4 linked regions of the Homo sapiens genome follow. The protein of the gene in region 3 interacts with the protein of the main gene of each other region in a pairwise test. Each region holds a gene or a part of one and is shown on either strand. Other genes may lie near its edges.

The links. Proteins that work in one complex are often made in the same cells at the same time.
Region 1: the proteins of AP1M1 (region 3) and AP1B1 interact in a two-hybrid assay, tested with the Homo sapiens proteins (2 studies listed by BioGRID, with this or other methods).
Region 2: the proteins of AP1M1 (region 3) and MTF1 interact in binary tests that used the Homo sapiens proteins (3 or more experiments, as listed by UniProt).
Region 4: the proteins of AP1M1 (region 3) and KIF24 interact in binary tests that used the Homo sapiens proteins (3 or more experiments, as listed by UniProt).

What each region holds. Positions count from the first base shown.
Region 1 is NC_000022.11:29,378,571-29,383,042, forward strand, and holds part of AP1B1 (AP-1 complex subunit beta-1), read right to left. Parts: intron 1-4,472. UniProt on the Homo sapiens protein: Subunit of clathrin-associated adaptor protein complex 1 that plays a role in protein sorting in the late-Golgi/trans-Golgi network (TGN) and/or endosomes.
Region 2 is NC_000001.11:37,814,593-37,819,064, forward strand, and holds part of MTF1 (metal regulatory transcription factor 1), read right to left. Parts: intron 3,507-4,472; coding exon of another isoform or gene 3,486-3,506; exon of another isoform or gene 2,891-3,485; coding exon 2,827-2,890; intron 975-2,826; coding exon 544-974; 3' UTR 1-543. UniProt on the Homo sapiens protein: Zinc-dependent transcriptional regulator of cellular adaption to conditions of exposure to heavy metals. Binds to metal responsive elements (MRE) in promoters and activates the transcription of metallothionein genes like metallothionein-2/MT2A.
Region 3 is NC_000019.10:16,207,519-16,211,416, reverse strand, and holds part of AP1M1 (AP-1 complex subunit mu-1), read right to left. Parts: intron 3,399-3,898; coding exon 3,268-3,398; intron 2,388-3,267; coding exon 2,240-2,387; intron 1,058-2,239; coding exon of another isoform or gene 1,022-1,057; intron 1-1,021. UniProt on the Homo sapiens protein: Subunit of clathrin-associated adaptor protein complex 1 that plays a role in protein sorting in the trans-Golgi network (TGN) and endosomes.
Region 4 is NC_000009.12:34,305,269-34,309,740, forward strand, and holds part of KIF24 (kinesin-like protein KIF24), read right to left. Parts: intron 1,174-4,472; coding exon 984-1,173; intron 1-983. UniProt on the Homo sapiens protein: Microtubule-dependent motor protein that acts as a negative regulator of ciliogenesis by mediating recruitment of CCP110 to mother centriole in cycling cells, leading to restrict nucleation of cilia at centrioles.

The sequences.
Region 1 (4,472 bases), on a different chromosome or scaffold from region 3:
AAAAAAAGGCCGGGCGCAGTGGCTCACGCCTGTAATCCCAGCACTTTGGGAGGCCGAGGCGGGCGGATCATGAGGTCAGGAAATCGAGACCATCCTGGCTAACACGGTGAAACCCCATCTCTACTAAAAATACAAAAAATTAGCTGGGCCTGGTGGCGGGTGCCTGTAGTCCCAGCTACTCGGGAGGCTGAGGCAGGAGAATGGTGTGAACTCAGGAGGCGGAGCTTGCAGTGAGCTGAGATCGTGTCACTGCACTCCAGCCTGGGCAACAGAGCAAGACTCCGTCCCACAAAAAAAAAAAAAAAAAAAAGTCAGTTTCCTGAGGCCCACTAGCAATTAAAGACTTCAGAATGAAAAGGAACTAAAGGCAGACAAATGTCACATGCAAACGTTCTTATATTGGCTTTGAGTCTCTAGAACTCCATTCTAGAATCAGGTACCAGTTCTGAACTGATCTATAAGCCGTAATGTGCGGAAAGATCTGCTGTGAAGAAAAAAAAGTGATGGGCGCAGTGGCTCATGCCTGTAATCCCAGCACTTTAGGAGACCGAGGTGGGCAGATCACTTGAGGTGAGGAGTTCGAGACCAGCTTGGCCAACATGGCGAAACCTATCTCTACTAAAAATACAAAAATTAGCTGGACATGGTGGCTCGCACCTATAGTCCCAACTACTCAGGAGTCTCAGGCAGGAGAATTGCTTGAACCTGAAATCGCACCACTGCACTCTGGCCTGGGTGACAGAGCAAGACTCCATCTCAAAAAAAGAAAAAGTTCCTCTGGACTTGAAAATAAAGTAAGTAAGGCTTCTTCTGAACAATACTTAAATTAATCGAGATGAGGAGAAAGAGGCCAGAGACTACAGAACAACGCTCTTTGTGATCTCGGTTTTCCCATCTATGTAATGGGAACACTTTCTGAAGATCTGTCAAATTAACAGTGTAGAGCACCATCCGCTCCATGCCTGGAACTGTGCCCCACACGGAAGCATGCACACAGTAAACAAAGGACAGTCTTTTCTCACTGAGCTCTTACAGATTTAGAGGCCAGGTAAAGGACTGCAGGGGAACGGCAGAGTGATCATGCCTCCAGAGGAGGAGGGTTCTGAGATAGGTGGAGCAGCAAGGGAAGTTCTCTTAGATGAAGAGGGGCTTGGCTGACGCAAAAAGACAGGTCAGATTTAGAGAGGCAAGAGTGGAGGTGGCAAAGAGATGCACCACGAAATTGCCAATGTGACAACGGAGGGAACTGACAACAATTAAATCAACACTAGCTGGGGAACGGCTTCTTGCTAAGTGATTTACAACCCTTCTCATTTAATTCTCAGGGTAATTCAGTTAAAAAACAAGGAATTAGAGACACTGAGAGATGAGTGATTTACCTAAGGCCAAAACAAGAAGTCTGTGAGCCCCGCTGCCTGGCTGAAGGAAAGGACCTGGAAGGGAAAGGAGCAGACGAGGCTAGGGAAGGAAGAATGAGATTCAGAAATGGTTCTGGATGCCAGGTGTGTTGGGTCCTGCCAGGAGAAGACACAATGGTCATGTCAAATGACAAGTCTCATGCTGATAAGCATTTGACACTACTGATCACTCCCTCCTTCCTGAAAACCTGTCTTCCCTCAAATGCTAGGATGCCATGCTCTCTGCCTGCCCTCCTACGCCACTGTCTGCGCCTTCTCAGTCTCCTTTGCTTGTTCCTCTCCTTCTCCTTCAACACTGTGTGCCCCAGGGCTCAGGCCTGGTACCTCTTCTCTTCCCCATCTATGCTATTTTGCCTCTTTGGTGGATCATCCGGTATCACAGCTTTACATACCATCCACATAGCCCAACCTCTCCCCAGAACCCCCGGGCACACATGTCCAAACTGTGTAACTGACATCTCCACATTACTGTGGAGATGACTAGCAGGCAGCTCAAACAATGGGATAAAAACTGACCTCCTGCTTCCTTCCTTTCCCCAACTGGCTCACCCTGCAGTCTACATCATCTAGTTCCTGCCAGCACCATCTTTAAGAGGGCCTCAGGCTAAAAACCTGAGTCACTCTTAACAACATACTCTCCTTTAAATCTATCGGCAAATCCTATTGGATTCCGACCTTCAAAATGAATCTAGAATCCATGAGCAGCTTCTCACTAGCTCCATCACTAACCCCAGCTCCAAGCCAGCATCACCTTCCATTTAGAGTGCTAACAAAGCTGCTCCCACACTGCTTTGCTGACACCCCATCTCAGCAACAGCCAGGATGATCCTCTTACAGTCCAAATCAGACAGTAGCACCCCTCTGCTCAACGTCTTCCAACGGTTCTCTGTCTTACTCATAGTAAAAGCCAAAGTCCCTACCATGGCCTCATAGCCCACAGGTCCTATAAGAGATGCATGCCCCTCCTCTCTCACGCATGCACCCTGCTGGCCATTACCCTTTGAACTCTTCTCCCCATCATTCCCTCAGCTCCAGCCGCACAGGCCTCTTTACTGATCCTCGAACACAACATGCATCCACCCCAGGGCCTTTGCCCGTGCTATTCACTTTGCTAGGAAGGCTCTTTCTCCAGACAGCCTCATGGCTCAGTCCCTCACCTCTTTAGGTCTTGGCTCAAATGTCATCTTCTCATTGAGGCCTTCTTTGACCATTTTATTTAAAATTGTATACCCCTCCCCCATAATCCCCACCACTTCCTAACCCTCTTTGCCCTTTTTCCCTTCAAAGTACTTATTACCTATTACCTACACACTATAAAATATACTTACGTTGTCTATTCTTTCTCCCCCTATAAATTCCCTAATGTAAATGGGGGTAAGGATTTTGTCCATTTTGTTCACTATCATATTCCTGACTCCTAGGCTGGTACCTGGCAAACAGGTGTTCAATAAGTAGCTGAATGACCAGTGCTCAACTCTCTTCTTGGGCAAATTTCATGTTTTGTAAACCAACCTCTGCTAGAGCAGCTTCTCCATGTTCCATTCACGGGGTTATCCAGGATCAGAGATACATCTGCTCTGATTGTCAAGCTATTCTAACTATACTGAAATTGAACATGCCAGACCCCTAGCACATTTACAGCCAATAAATGGAAGTTAAGTGAATAAATTATGAGAGAGAGAAGAAATGGCAAGGGTAGAAGATCAGGTGGCAACATCTCCAGTGGGAGAAACGTTCAGTGAGGCCAAGTCACTCTCACCTGCTCCCATAGGTATCAGCTCAGAGTGACAGAGCTGCAGAAGGTGGGGGGCTCTGGCACAGGATATAAGTACCAGGTCCTTGCCTCCAGGCCCACATGCCTTCTTTGTTCCTCTAACAGCCAACTCTTCACTATCTCTACCCTTGCTGATCCTTCTGCTTGGATTATCCTCTCCTAACTGCTCCAATTTATCCTTCAAATCTCAGCTTAGATGATCTCATTTCAAAGATAACTTCCCTTCAGCGTGATACCTCTGATGCTTAAAAAAAGAAACAAAAAAAAAATACCTTTCCTACATGTACTATCTTTTTTGTTGTTGTTGCTAGAGACAGATAGTCTTGCTCTGTCACCCAGGCTAGAGTGCAGGGGTGTGATCATAGCTCACTGCAGCATCAAACTACTGGGCTCAAGCAATTCTGCTTCAGCCTCCTGAGTAGCTGGGACTACAGGCGTGTGCCATGCCCAGCTAATCTTTTCAAGTTTTTTGTGGAGTCTCGCTAAATTATCCAGGCTGGTCTTGAACTCCTGGCCTCAAATGATCCTCCCACCTCAGCCTCCCAAGTAGCTGGGATTACAGGCATGAGCCACGGCACCTGGCCATGCATGTACAACCTTAAGAAGGTATTTCTCTGTCCACATCCTTCAGTGTTCTTATTCATACATTTCCTGAGCATCTTTCGTGTACCAGAAACACTTCTACATGTTGGGAATGCAGGAGTGAAAGAAACAGACAAAAATCCTTCCCTACATGGAGTTTATGTCCTAATGGGGGAAAGAGACCGTAAGCAAGATAAGTGAGTAAAATATATAACATCTTAGATAGTGATAAACACAATGGAGGCAAAAAAGAGGAGGGAAGGAGGATAGGGAGGGGAGAGGGGAGGAAGGGAAGTTAAAATTTAACTAGGGTGGCCATAGAAGGCCTCCTTGAGAAGGTGACAGGTGACACTGTCTGCGAAAGAGCCTGCCAAGCAAAAGAGATCGCCAGTGCAAAGGTGAGTATGTGCCTGGCATGTCTGAGGAACAGAAGGGAAGTGAATGTGGCTGAGTGAGCAATGAGGAAAACAGTGGGTCAGGAAGTCACAGGAGAATGCAGGGGGCCTTATGATCAAGCGTGAGGTCTCTGGCTTTTACTGAGTGAGCTGGAGCCACTGGAGGGTTTTGAGCAGAGGAGTCCTGACATCTGACCTATATTTTAATAAGTTCTGGCTGCTATGCCTTTTGTTTCCCTTGTGGCTTATTGGTTTTTCTAATCATTGCATTTTTTTCTCTACTTCTTTGTCTCTCTCTCCCAT
Region 2 (4,472 bases), on a different chromosome or scaffold from region 3:
ACCATCTCACCTGAACCCTGTCCAACTCACAGCTGCCTCACTGGCCTTTGCCACTGCCCTCTCTGATGGAGCAAGGGTCTGGCCTTCCAAGCAAATGTCAGCCTCAGATTCAAAAGACACATAGGAAGGAGCAACACCCAACACACTGAAAACTCCTGCCCGATCCACAAAGACCCCAGTGCAAGCGATGGGCAGCATCAGATTGATGGAAACCACACCCTTTCATTTAGAATTTTTATGCACACGAGTAACCTTAGTTTCCAAGTTCACATGACAACAAGCAAAAGTGACATACAGTGCAGCCAAACAGTTCACTTATAACTTAGCTTTTTTTGTTGTTTTTTTTGTTTTTTGTTTTTTTCCAAAGAATAGTTCCTTAAAATGGATGCTCCTGGGATGTGAATAAAGAAAATACGTCTGAAAGGTGAGGATTTCAAACAGTAGATTTCTTCATCCTTCAAATTTCTGACCCATGATGGCAGGCATTGTACCTCATGCCTCCTGCTCACCCGCTTTTCCCAGAGGTGAGCACACATGGGCCCTTCACTTGGAGAAGCTGCTGGTGAGGCCCATCTCCTCCTCCCCCTGCAGTAGTGCTTCAATGGGAATCAGATTGGACGGGGTGTCCAGGCTCTGGAGGGATAGAAACTCTGACACATCCATGGCACTTAATGTTTCTGTCTGAGGGTCTGAAGGAGTCTCTGCTTGTCGGCTTTGCTCACAGGAGGAGGGCAAGGTAGAGGATGATGACCCGGGAACAGGGGCTGAAGAGAAAGTCTGCGCTGGGAGCTGCAGGCTGGGCCCATCAGGAGCCTGGGGGCTCGGCTCTGGAGGGGGTGGGGAGGAGCAGCCCTTTCTCCTGCTGGATGCCCGCTCCTTTGCAGAGTCCCGGCATGCACACTGACACTGACATGCCTCTTCTTGTTTGATGATGATCACAGGAACACTGAGGCCAATCTGCTGGACAGAGCTCCCTGCGAGAGAGGCAAGAGAGACTGCTCTTCAAGTAGCTGCAGGGGCAGGAGCATGAGGGACAGGGATACATGGACTAGGTGAGAGCAGAGTGCCATGGGAACCATGGGAAGGATGGTTGCCACACTTCGGGCTTCGTTCTGCTTTAAATTGGACCACATGCCCTCTGAGGTAAAAGAGGGACACTCCCCAGCCCGAGACAAAGTCCCGTTTCCTTAGAAAGTCACACACACGATCTAGATGCACCCTGTATTTCCAGCTTCATTTCCAGTCATTCTCCATTGCACCCTCCCTGTGGAGGCCTACTTTTCCTGACACGTTCTTTATACCCCTGGGCCTGTGGGCTCTTCCTTACGACTAAAATCCCTGGACACCTCTCTTCTGGAGAACTGACACTCATCTTTCAAGACCTAGCTCACTCCCCCACTCTCTGTAGGCCTATGCAGAGGACTAGCTTGGATGAAGCCGGTACCCAGCCTCCCGGCACACATGCACAGTGCTGCTGTTTTCCTTCCACACCTCTCTCCTTGCGGTACAGGACCTGCTTGGTTCTGCCTGCCCAGGAGACTCTGAGCTCCTTTAGGACATCTTACTCATCTCTCTTTCTCTCATGTGTTGTACGAACACTTGCTCCATATTCAGCCAGGCTTTGTGTGTCTTGACAGAGCTAAAGACCAATGGGCAGGATGAGGTGCAGTGGCTCATGCCTGTATGTAATCCCTGTACTTTGGGAGACTGAGAAGGGAGGATTCTCTTGAGCCCAGGTGTTTGAGACCAGCCTGGCCAATATAGTGAGACTCTGTCTCTACACATAATAAAGAAAAATTAGGCCGGGCGTGGTGGCTCATGCCTATAATCCCAGCACTTTGGGAGGCCAAGGTGGGCAGATCACTTGATGTCAGGAGTTTGAGACCAGCCTGGCCAACATGGTGAAACCTTGTCTCTACTAAAAATACAAAAATTAGCTGGGCATAGTGTTGAATGCCTGTAATCCCAGCTACTTGGGAGACTGAGACATGAGAATCACTTGAACCTAGGAGGCAGGGGTTGCAGTGAGCCGGGATTGCGCCACTGCAGTCCAGCCTGGGCAACAGAACGTGACTCCATCTCAAAAAAAAAAAAAAAAAGAAAGAAAAAAAAGAAAATTAGCCAGGCATGGTGGTGGAGCATGCCTATGGTCCCAGCTACTTGGGGGGCTGAGGCAAGAGGATTGCCTGAACTCAGGAGGCCCAGGCTGCAGTGAGCTGTGATCGTGCCACCATACTGCAGCCTGGGTGACAGTGAGACCTTGTCTCAAAAACAAAACAAAACAAAGGCCAGTGGGCAGGAGAACAGGGTGGGAACGGGGAGGCCTGACAACTAGTGCTTTGGTTCCACCACAGATTCACTTACAACCTTGGGGGAGTCAATTAATTTTTCTGGGTCCCAGTGTCTTAATCTATAAAATAAAGAATTTGAATAAAAGGAACTTTCAGCTCTATATGTGTCTCTGACCCAGATGCTATTTCTTCATTACTGTAATTAGAAAAGAGTCCAGTGAATTAACAACTGCCCTCTTTAGCATTAGCTGTGATTCAAAAATTTTTTTCTGGCTACATTTTAAAGCTGTATCTGAAAGGGAAAGAACTGTTACTAGTTAAAGAATGTTAAACACGGTATTTTGGCCAGACGTATACTAACTTCTAATAGTTGTGAGAATATGAAATACTCTAGCCAACAATACAATGTGAAGAATTTAACTGAGGCTGTTTAAAGATTTTTAAAGTTTTAGAAACTGGGACAAAGCAATAATTAGCTGTGCCTCAAGGGACCCACAGAGTTGCCTTCTCTTAAGGCTAACATGGAATTACATACCTGGGCTACTGGCTACTGGTACTGCAGTGGTAAAAAACACCTTCTCAACTTTAGATGCTTGCTGCTGAAAAAAGAAAAAGAAATCTCATTTATAGCCACTGTAATATGGCAGATCCCCAGGGACCTGAAGCCTCACCAACTGTAATGGTCATCCAAGAAGACAGAAAACCCTTAGTGTTCAGGGATTTTTGTACTGAGTGATGTTTTGTTTGTGCTCTGACATGAGGTCACTGCACTGTTTGACATTCAGTGCTGACAACGTAGTTAGCTTTGTACGCCACTAGTTGGCTGGCTCCCAGCTGCCTAATCCAGTAGGTTCTGTATCCAAAGGCTCCTCCTCCTCCAAGGTTGCTTTTCTCAAGCAGATTGTCTTCTCAGAGGGATCCCAGGGCTAGCTTTCCTTCAGGCTCTCCACATTCCCTGCTGCCCCCTAGTACTTCTAAGAAAGCTGGAAAGTTCTTTTTTTCCCCCTCAGAGATTAAGCTGCATGCCAAGGACAGGTTAAGGCTTCCTCTCACAGGTAGACAGCCCTGTAAAGGCCTTGTGCTGTAAGGTGCACAGCATAGTTCAAGGGTGGGCCCTGGATTCAGCCACACTTGGATTCAAGTCCAAGCTCTGCCACTTATTAGTTGTTGGTGTTGGGCATGTGATTTAACTTCTTAAGAGTCTTGTTTCCCCACCTGTAAAAACAGGAATAATAACTACTATGGATGGAGTATCTGTCCCCTCCAAAACTCATGTTGAAAGTTAATCCCCAGTGTGGCAGTATTGAGAGGCTGGGTTTTTAAGAGGTGACTGGGTCATGAATGAATTAATTCACTCATGGATTAATGAGTTATCATGGGAGTGGGACTGGTGGCTTTATAAGAAGAGTAAGAGAAGGAGGGTGTGGTGGTACATGCCTATAGTCCCAGCTATTTGGAAGACTGAAGGAGGATCACCTGAGCCCAGGAGTTCAAGGCCAGCCCAGCCTGGAACATAGTGAAATTCTCTCTCTTAAAAAAGGCCAGGCGCAGTGGCTCACGCCTGTAATCCCAGCACTTTGGGAAGCCGAGGCGGGTGAATCACAAGGTCAGGAGATCGAGACCATCCTAGCTAACATAGTGAAACTCCATCTCTACTAAAAATACAAAAAATTAGCCGGGCATGGTGGCGGGCGCCTGTAGTCCCAGCTAATCGGGAGGCTGAGGCAGGAGAATGGTGTGAACCCGGGTGGTGGAGCTTGCAGTGAGCCGAGATCGCGCCACTGCACTCCAGCCTAGGTGACAGAGCGAGACTCCATCTCAAAAAAAAAGGCCAGGTGTGGTGGCTCACGCCTGTAATCCCAGCACTATGGGAGGCCGAGGCGGGCAGATCACGAGGTCAGGAGATCGAGACCATCCTGGCTAATACGGTGAAACCCCATCTCTACTAAAAATACAAAAATTAGACGGGTGTGGTGGCGGGTGCCTGTAATCCCAGCTACTCGGGAGGCTGAGGCAAGAGAATGGTGTGAACCTGGGAGGCGGAGGTTGCAGTGAGCCGAGATCGCACCACTGCACTCCAGCCTGGACAACAGAGTGAGACTCCGTGTCAAAACAAAAAAAAAAAAATGAAGAGGAAGAGAGGCCCGAGCTAGGATGTTCAACCCCTCGCCATGTGATGCC
Region 3 (3,898 bases):
CTCCTATTCAATATAGTATTGGGGGCTGGGCATGGTGGCCGACGCCTGTAATCCCAACACTTAGGGAGGCCGAGGAAGGCAGATCACCTGAGGTCAGGAGTTCGATACCACCCTGACCAACATAGTGAAACCCTGTCTCGACTAAAAATACAAAAATTAGCCGGGCATGGTGGCATGCGTCTGTAATCCCAGCTACTTGGGAGGCTGAGGCTGGAGAAGCACTTGAAGCCCGGAGGTGGAGGTTGCACTGAGCCAAGCATGCCACTTGTACTACAGCCTGGGCTACAAAGTGAGACTCTGTCGAAAAAAAAAAAACACTGCTAAGAGAATAAAAAGATAAGCTACAGACTGGGGGAAAATACTTGCAAATCACCTATCTGACAGAGGACTTCTATCTGGAACACACAAAGAACTATCAAGGCTCAACTATATGAAAATAACCCAATTTAAAAATGCTAAAAAGATGCACAGAGACATTTCTCCAAAGAGGATATACAGATGACAAAGAAACATGTAAAGCAATGCTCAACATTATTAGCCATTAAGAAAATGGAATAGGCCAGGCGTGGTAGCTCACACCTGTAATCCCAGCACTTTGGGAGGCAGAGGCGGGTGGATCATCTGAGGTCAGGAGTTCGAGACCAGCCTGGCCAACATGGTGAAACCCCGTCTCTAGTAAAAATACAAAAATGAGCCAGGCCTGGTGGTGGGTGCCTGTAATCCCAGCTACTCGGGAGGCTGAGGCAGGAGAATCGCTTAAGCCTGGGAGGCAGAGGTTGCAGTGAATGGAGATAGTGCCATTGCACTCCAGCCTGGGCGACAAGAGCGAGACTGTGTCTCAAAAACAAAAACAAAAACAAAACACAAAACTGTGCTGACATACTACTACATACCTATTAGGATGACAAAAATAAAACTACTGACAAAGGATGTGGGGTCATCACAACCCTCATCTGTTGCTGGCGAGAATGCAAAACAGCAATGGTTTGGCAGTTTCTTATAAAGGTAAACATACACTTACCGTGTGACCCAGCCATCCCACTCCTGGGTATTTACCCTAGAGAGATGAAAACTTATGTCCACACATAAACCTGGACACGACATGTTTCTAGCAACTCTATTGACAATTGCCAAAGATTGGAAAACCACCCAAATGTCCTTCTGTGGTTCAGAACAGAAAATAAATATAAATAAATATAAAAGGGAACAGACTTTTGATATGCAAAACAATTGGATTTGGATGAATCGCAAAGAATTAGAATGAGTTAAAGCAGCCAGACTCGAGAGCTCATGACTGTATGACGCCATTCATACGACAATCTCAGAAAGACAGCTGCGGTGACATATGATGCCACTCGTGTGACAATCACAACACGATGAAGACTCCAGTGATGGAGAACAGTTCAATGGTGGCCAGGAAATGGGGAAGAGGGGAGCATGGAGCTACAAAGGGGCAACATGAGGAGGTTTTGAGGTTCTGTGTCCTGGGTGTGGTGATGGGTACACAAATCTGTACAAGCGCTAAAATTCATTTTCAAAACGTCAACTTTCCTCATAATTAAAAAACCAAAAGAAAAAAATATACAAAACAGTAACACTGAACGCAAAATCAAAACCCAAACAACAACCACCACCAAAAAAACAAGCTGCAGGAGAACCACATCTTATGATCTCAGGTTTATAGAAAAATCAATATACTTGTTTCTGTCTGTCTACAGAATGAGGCCCGAGAGGGTGACGGTGAATAAATCCTAATCTTTCTGATTATAGGAGCCCTTTAGTTTCTTTTTTTTTTTTCTGTGCATGGTGACTGATAAGAGCCCTTCACTTTCTAACCTCATACCCTGCTTCTAATTTTTAAAAATAATGTGCATGTATGGATTCTCAGTCAGCATAAATGCTAATAAAGAAAACAAGCTTTAGCCGAGCGTGGTGGCGGGTGCCTATAATCCCGGCTACACGGGAGGCTGAGGCAGGAGAATCGCCTGAACCTGGGAGGCGGAGGTTGCAGTGAGCCGAGATCGTGTCACCACACTCTAGCCTGGGCGACAGAATGAGATTCCGTCTCAAAAAAAAAAGATAAGACAAACTCACATTTCAATGAGTGGCCCAAACTGAATCCTGCTATCTGTTACCACACAGAACGGCTCTCGGGGCTTTGCCAGTTTTAAAATGCTGTGTTTATTTCTATCGTGGAAGAGATAAAACCCTACAGAAGAAGGAAAGAAAAGAGGCCTACCAAGAGGTTGACAGACTCGATGACGTCCAAGAACACCTCATTCTTCCGATACTTGATGCCTTCGGACCGCCAGGACACCGCGTTGGTGACGGTGGCTGGTGGCCGCGGGGCCCCTGTTTCCAGCTTGTGGCCTTCCTGAGTGATGTACCTGTGGGGCCACACGCTCAGAGTGAAGGAGGTGGTACCCGCACCAACGCCACAGCTTCTGGCCTTGACATTTCGGCAGGGTTGGGTGGGGGGTACAGGGCAGGTTCTGACCGACTTGAAAATAGCCCTTGGATTTCAGCAGCTCCAGAAAAGGCAGCCTCTGGTTCACCTGGGGCTGCTTCATACAGAAAAATCTTCACAATTTCCAAAAGCCAATACACTCAAGTTATAGAGGCTGAAGTGCTCATTTTGGGGGACCAAGAAGACCATGTTGGGAAGGAAAACAAGAAGTGGGTGTGAGCTGCTTCCCGTCCCTGCTGAGCACGTGGATGGAACTGACGCCTCGGAGTGTAACCTGGTGACCCCATCCTGCTGAAGGAGCAGGAGGTGCAGCGGTTAGGAACACAGGCTTCTCTGGGAGTCTGCTTGCTTGTCCCCTGTAAAATGGGGAGACGGTATACGGGGAGGCTGTGAATCGAGTGAATGTGAAGTGCTGGGGCCCGGCCCCCAGGAAGCACTTAATTCACATTGCTTCTTATCTGAAGGGCAGGATTCCAAAGAGGGGAGATTTCGATCACAGTCTCATTTTATGACAGTAAAAACAAGGGAGGTGACTCCTTAGTAGCAAGGTACTGAAGGCATCTGTGTGGATGGAGAGTAAAGATGAGGAGCAGGAAAAGCACGGTTATGTGGGGGCGTAGAGGAGGAAACGAATTAAAACCACTAAGAGCAACTTAGTAAAAACCCGAATACTGCTGGAGGTGGGAGGCAGGTGGGGGACAACATGAACACAAATTTGCCCCTTCTGTTTCCACACCTGATGACGTCGATGTCATGACACCGCCCAGGCCTGGCCCCAGGCCCCACCCCTGCCCACTCACTCCTGCAGGATCTTGCTGTCGGTGGTCTGGGGGTAGCCGAAGTCCATGAGCTCGTCCAGCAGCTCGTAGATGATAACAAAGTTGTCCCGGATGCTCTCCTCCTCCAGCTCCTTGAAGTACTCGGAAAACACCTGTGGCGGTTGGGGAGGGAGGGAGGAATGGGAGGCAGATCATTGAGCGGACGGATGAGGAATGAATGAACGCTTGCACACATTCATTTGCCCGCTAAGTCCTACCAACAGCCTACTTCCCAGGCTCGGTGGTGTGCTACAGGGCCCTGGACCCAGGTTATGGGGCAGGACAGCAGTGGCTGGCTGTGGGGTGGGGCCAGGCTGGAGCCACTGCAGATGTCCCGAGGCCTTCAGAAGCTCTGCGTTCCCATTCTCTTCCCTGCCCAGACACCCGCAGACAGGCAGCCCCTCCTGAGCGACTGTAACTGTCATCCCTTTCTGAGTCTGGAGTGACTCAGGCAAGGACCTGATGAGCTGCCATCTTCCCCATTTCAGTGGAAAGCTTGATGCATCTTCCCCATTTCAATGGAAAGCTCAGAAGGTTAAGGAAGGGACGCCAAAGAAGAGGGGCTGTTAGAAGCACTTTTGCAGGCACAAATGCTGAAGGAAGGAGCGTCACT
Region 4 (4,472 bases), on a different chromosome or scaffold from region 3:
AAACCCTTATATGTTAGATGTGAAATCATATCTCTGGATTTTATTTACCCACTGCAATCTACCCTGTATAAAGTGGTCTGCTCAGAGCCCAATTTTCGCCAATTAAGTATAAGCCCAAGACAGCTGAGAATCAAAATAAGCACGTGGCTGGCAATTGTCGGTCCTGTTGCCCAAAAAGATATTGTCCATCATTAAACCCAAGTCTCAAAGTCAGCAGAATGAGAAGTTCACACTGTGAGATGCAAGCAAGAATGGAAATCAACTGTGTGACATCTCATAGTCATATATTCAGTGACTGGTCCTGTTGACAACTACTTAATTATTTATTTGTTTTTTATTTTTATATTCTTTTAGAGGCAGATCCTCCCTCTGTTGCCCAGGCTGGAGTGCAGTGGTGCAATCATAGCTCACTGTAATGCAGAACTCCTGGGCTCAAGTGATCCTCCTGCCTCAGCCTCCTGAGTAGTTAAGACTACAGGTACACACCACCATGCTGGGCTAGTTTTAAGATCTTTTCTGGAGAGACAGGATCTCGCTATGGTGCCCAGGGTGGTCTCAAACTCTTGGGCTCAAGTGATCCTCCCACTGCAGCCTCCCAAAGCACTGGGATTATAGGCGTGAGCCACCACACCTGGCCCCACTTCATTATTTAAATTATTTTTATTCCTTCATTCCTCCTTTTTTTTGCTGAATATGTATAATTAAATTCACACAAAGCATGTTAAGTGAATATATGATGTAGCTCCACTGCACAAGAGAAATTGTTTTTGTATCCCCTATTGCACCGTCTTTTGAAAAAATGAAGGCCCTGGATATCAATGACTTAATACAGTGTCACATCAGGAATGAATGTCAACACCCGAACCAGAAACTTGATTTTCAGTGTTCTAACAGAAACTTGTATGCCACCACTCAAACAAAAAGCAAAAAAAAATGACATACTTGATAATATTAGTTCCAAACATAAAACGAAAACATCATACCTGCAGAATATATTGAGTGAGGTCAACTGCTTCTTTCTTCTCATGCACAAGTAGAGTTTCTTTGTCTTCTACAGTAATAATATTAATTTCTCCACGACGTACCTCCCTCATGCCCAGGGGGCGTTTTCGAACACAAACTCTGATTTTCTCCATCTCAGTCCAAGGATTCTGTTTCTCTGAAGTGTTCTGTCTAATATGTTTATAAACAGGCTTTTAATTTTTAATAATAGGACAAGATTACTTAACAGGTCAAAGTATTGGTACCTTTTAGCCGGGCGCGGTGGCTTACGCCTGTAATCCCAGCACTTTGAGAGGCCGAGGTGGGCGGATCACGATGTCAGGAGATCAAGACCATCCTGGCTAACACGGTGAAACCCCATCTCTACTAAAAATACAAAAAATTAGCCAGGCATAGTGGCGTGCGCCTGTAATCCCAGCTACTTGGGAGGCTGAGGCAGGAGAATGGCGTGAACCCGGGAGGCAGAGCTTGCAGTGAGCCGAGATTGCGCCACTGCACTCCAGCCTGGGCGACAGAGCCAGATTCTGTCTCAAAAAAAAAAAAAGTATTGGTACATTTTGCTGTATATTAGGCATAATATATTTCTTAAAGTTACAAAGTAAAGTGTCAACCCTGAGAAAGTTCTTCTATCTCCATCCCCACCCTGCTCCGCCCTTTTCCTTGCAAAAACACAAATAACAGAACAACAACAAAAAACCAACCAACAAACAAAAAACCCCTAAGAGATCATATATAGAATACTATTTTATACAATTGTTTCATATCAATTCTGATTTCCTTAGCCCTCCAACTGGCTGCTGAAAAAAAATTTTTTTTGAGATAGGATCTCACTCTGTCACCCAGACTGGAGTACAGTGGCACAGCCATGGCTCATTGCAGCCTCAACCTCCAGGGTTCAAGAAATTCTACCTCAGCCTCCTAAGTAGCTAGGACTATAGCATACAACACCGCAGCTGGCTAATTTTTGTAATTTTTGTAGGGACAGGGTCCCACTATCTTGCCCAGGCTGGTCTTCAACTTATGGCCTCAAGCAATCCTCCCATTTTGGCCTGTCAAAGTGCTGGGATTACAAGCATCAGTCATCACGCTCAGCCTGGAGAATAATTTTTTTACTGGGATCTGAATTGGTTTAAAAAAAAAAAAACCAGCAAATAATTTTCTAATATAATGAATGCATAAAGCACTAATTTTATGGCATGTTTTAAAGCAAATTTTATTTTCTTAACCAACATTTAGGGACTTTAAAATGCATCATTTTTGCATGAAACTGCAGATGGAATAAATAAATGACAGAATAAATGAAATGTACCATTTTGAGGTACTGTGGGAAAATCGTGACAATCATTGAAACTGGATGACGGGCCAGGTGCGGTGGCTCACGCCTGTAATCCTAGCACTTCGAGAGGCTGAGGCGGGCAGATCACTTGAGGTCAGGAGTTCGAGACCAGCCTGGCCAACATGGTGAAACCCCATCTCTACTAAAAATATAAAACTTAGCTGGGCATGCTCACTTAAACCCAGGAGGTGGAGTTCACAGGTGAGATAGTGCCATTGCATTCCAGCCTGGGCAACAGAGCAAGACTCTGTCTGAAAAAAAAAAAAAAAAAAAGAAAAAAGAAAAAGAAATTGGATGATGGACATATTGGGATTCAGTGTTCTATTTTTTTCTTCTTTTGCATATGTTTGATTTTTCACAAGAAAAGGGAATTTTTTGTTTTGAGACAGGGTCTTGCTCTATCACCCAGACTGGAGTGCAGTGGTGCGAGCATAGCTCACTGAAGCCTCAACCTCCTGGGCTGAAGCCATCCTCCCACTTCAGCCAATAGTAGCTGGAACTACAGGTGCACACCATCATGTCTGGCTAATTTTTGTATTTTTGTAGAAACAGGGTCTCACCATGTTGCCCAGGCTGGCCTCGAACTCCTGGGCTCAAGCAATCTGCCTGCCTTGGCCTCCCAAAATGCCAGGATTGCAGGCATGAGCCACTGTGCTCATCAAAAATGAAAATTTTTAATGCTTTTTTTTTTTTTTGAGACAGAGTTTCATTGTGTCACCCAGGCTGGAGTGCAGTGGCACAATCTTGGCTCACTGCAACCTCTGCCTCCTGGGTTCAAGCGATTTTCCTACCTCAGCCTCTAGAATAGCTGGGACTGCAGGCACCTGCCATGACGCTCTGCTAATTTTTGTATTTTTAGTAGAGATGGGGTTTAGCCATGTTGGCCAGGCTGACCTTGAACTCCTGACCTCAGGTGATCCACCCGCCTTGGCCTCCCAAAGTGCTGGGATTAGAGGTGTGAGCCACTGTGCCTGGCCTAATGCATCATTTTAATAAGGGTTTTGTGTTAAAATCTTTAGTTGTTGGATATCAATAACCTAATCATATAAAGCTGATCAAAGAGGATAGAAAATGTTTGGTCCTTTTTAAAATTGTTCAGGGCTCTAGGATGACTCATATGAACAAAAGGCCCATAGTTTCAAGTTCAAGGAGCAAAAAGACATGCATGTTTTTTTAAAAAGCTCTAGTTTGGGCAGGGCAGAGTGGCTCTCACCTGTAATCCCAGTGCTTTGGGAAGCTGAGGTGGGAGGATCACTTGAGGCCAGGAGTTCAAGACCAGCCTGGGTAACATAGTGAGATCCCCAACTCTACAAAAAATTGAAAAATTAGCTGGGGACAGTGGTGCATACCTGTAGTCCTAGCTACTTGGGTGGCTGAGGCAGGAGGATCACTTGACCTCAGGAGTTTGAGGCCCCAGTGGACTATGACTGCACCACTGCACTCCAGCCTGGGTGACAGAGCAAGACCCTGTCTCTACAAATCAAACAAACAAACAAATAAACAAAAGAGTCAAATAAATGAAATGGTAATGGTTAAACTAAAATATCCATCCTATCCTTGATGGTGTTAAATAAAGTGGTATTTTTACTTATAAGTAATTCCAATTTAGATTTTTATGTACTGTTCAGTAAAAAAGTAATATTCAAGAAAATAGGCCAGGCGTGGTGGCTCACGCCTGTAATCCCAGCATTTTGGGAGGCTGAGGCGGGTGGATCACAAGGTCAGGAGATCAAGACCATCCTGGCTAACATGGTGAAACCCCACCTCTACTAAAAATACAAAAAATTAGCCAGGCATAGTGGCGGGCGCCTGTAGTCCCAGCTACTCGGAAGGCTGAGGCAGGAGAATGGCATGAACCCGGGAGGCGGAGCTTGCAGTGAGCAGAGATTGCACCACTGCACTCCAGCCTGGGCGACAGTGCGAGACTCCGTCTCAAAAAAAAAAAAAAAAAAAAGAAAATATTTACTCCTTCACCGCTGAGGTAACCAATGCAATAGCAACAATCTGCCTTCATAGTCAAGGAACAATCTATTCCTCTCAGAATTAAAAGAAGAAAACAGTATTACATGCTCTGTGATCTCCTAGACCAAACAAAATGTTTTCAGAAATATTATAATAAAAATTCACTTATGTA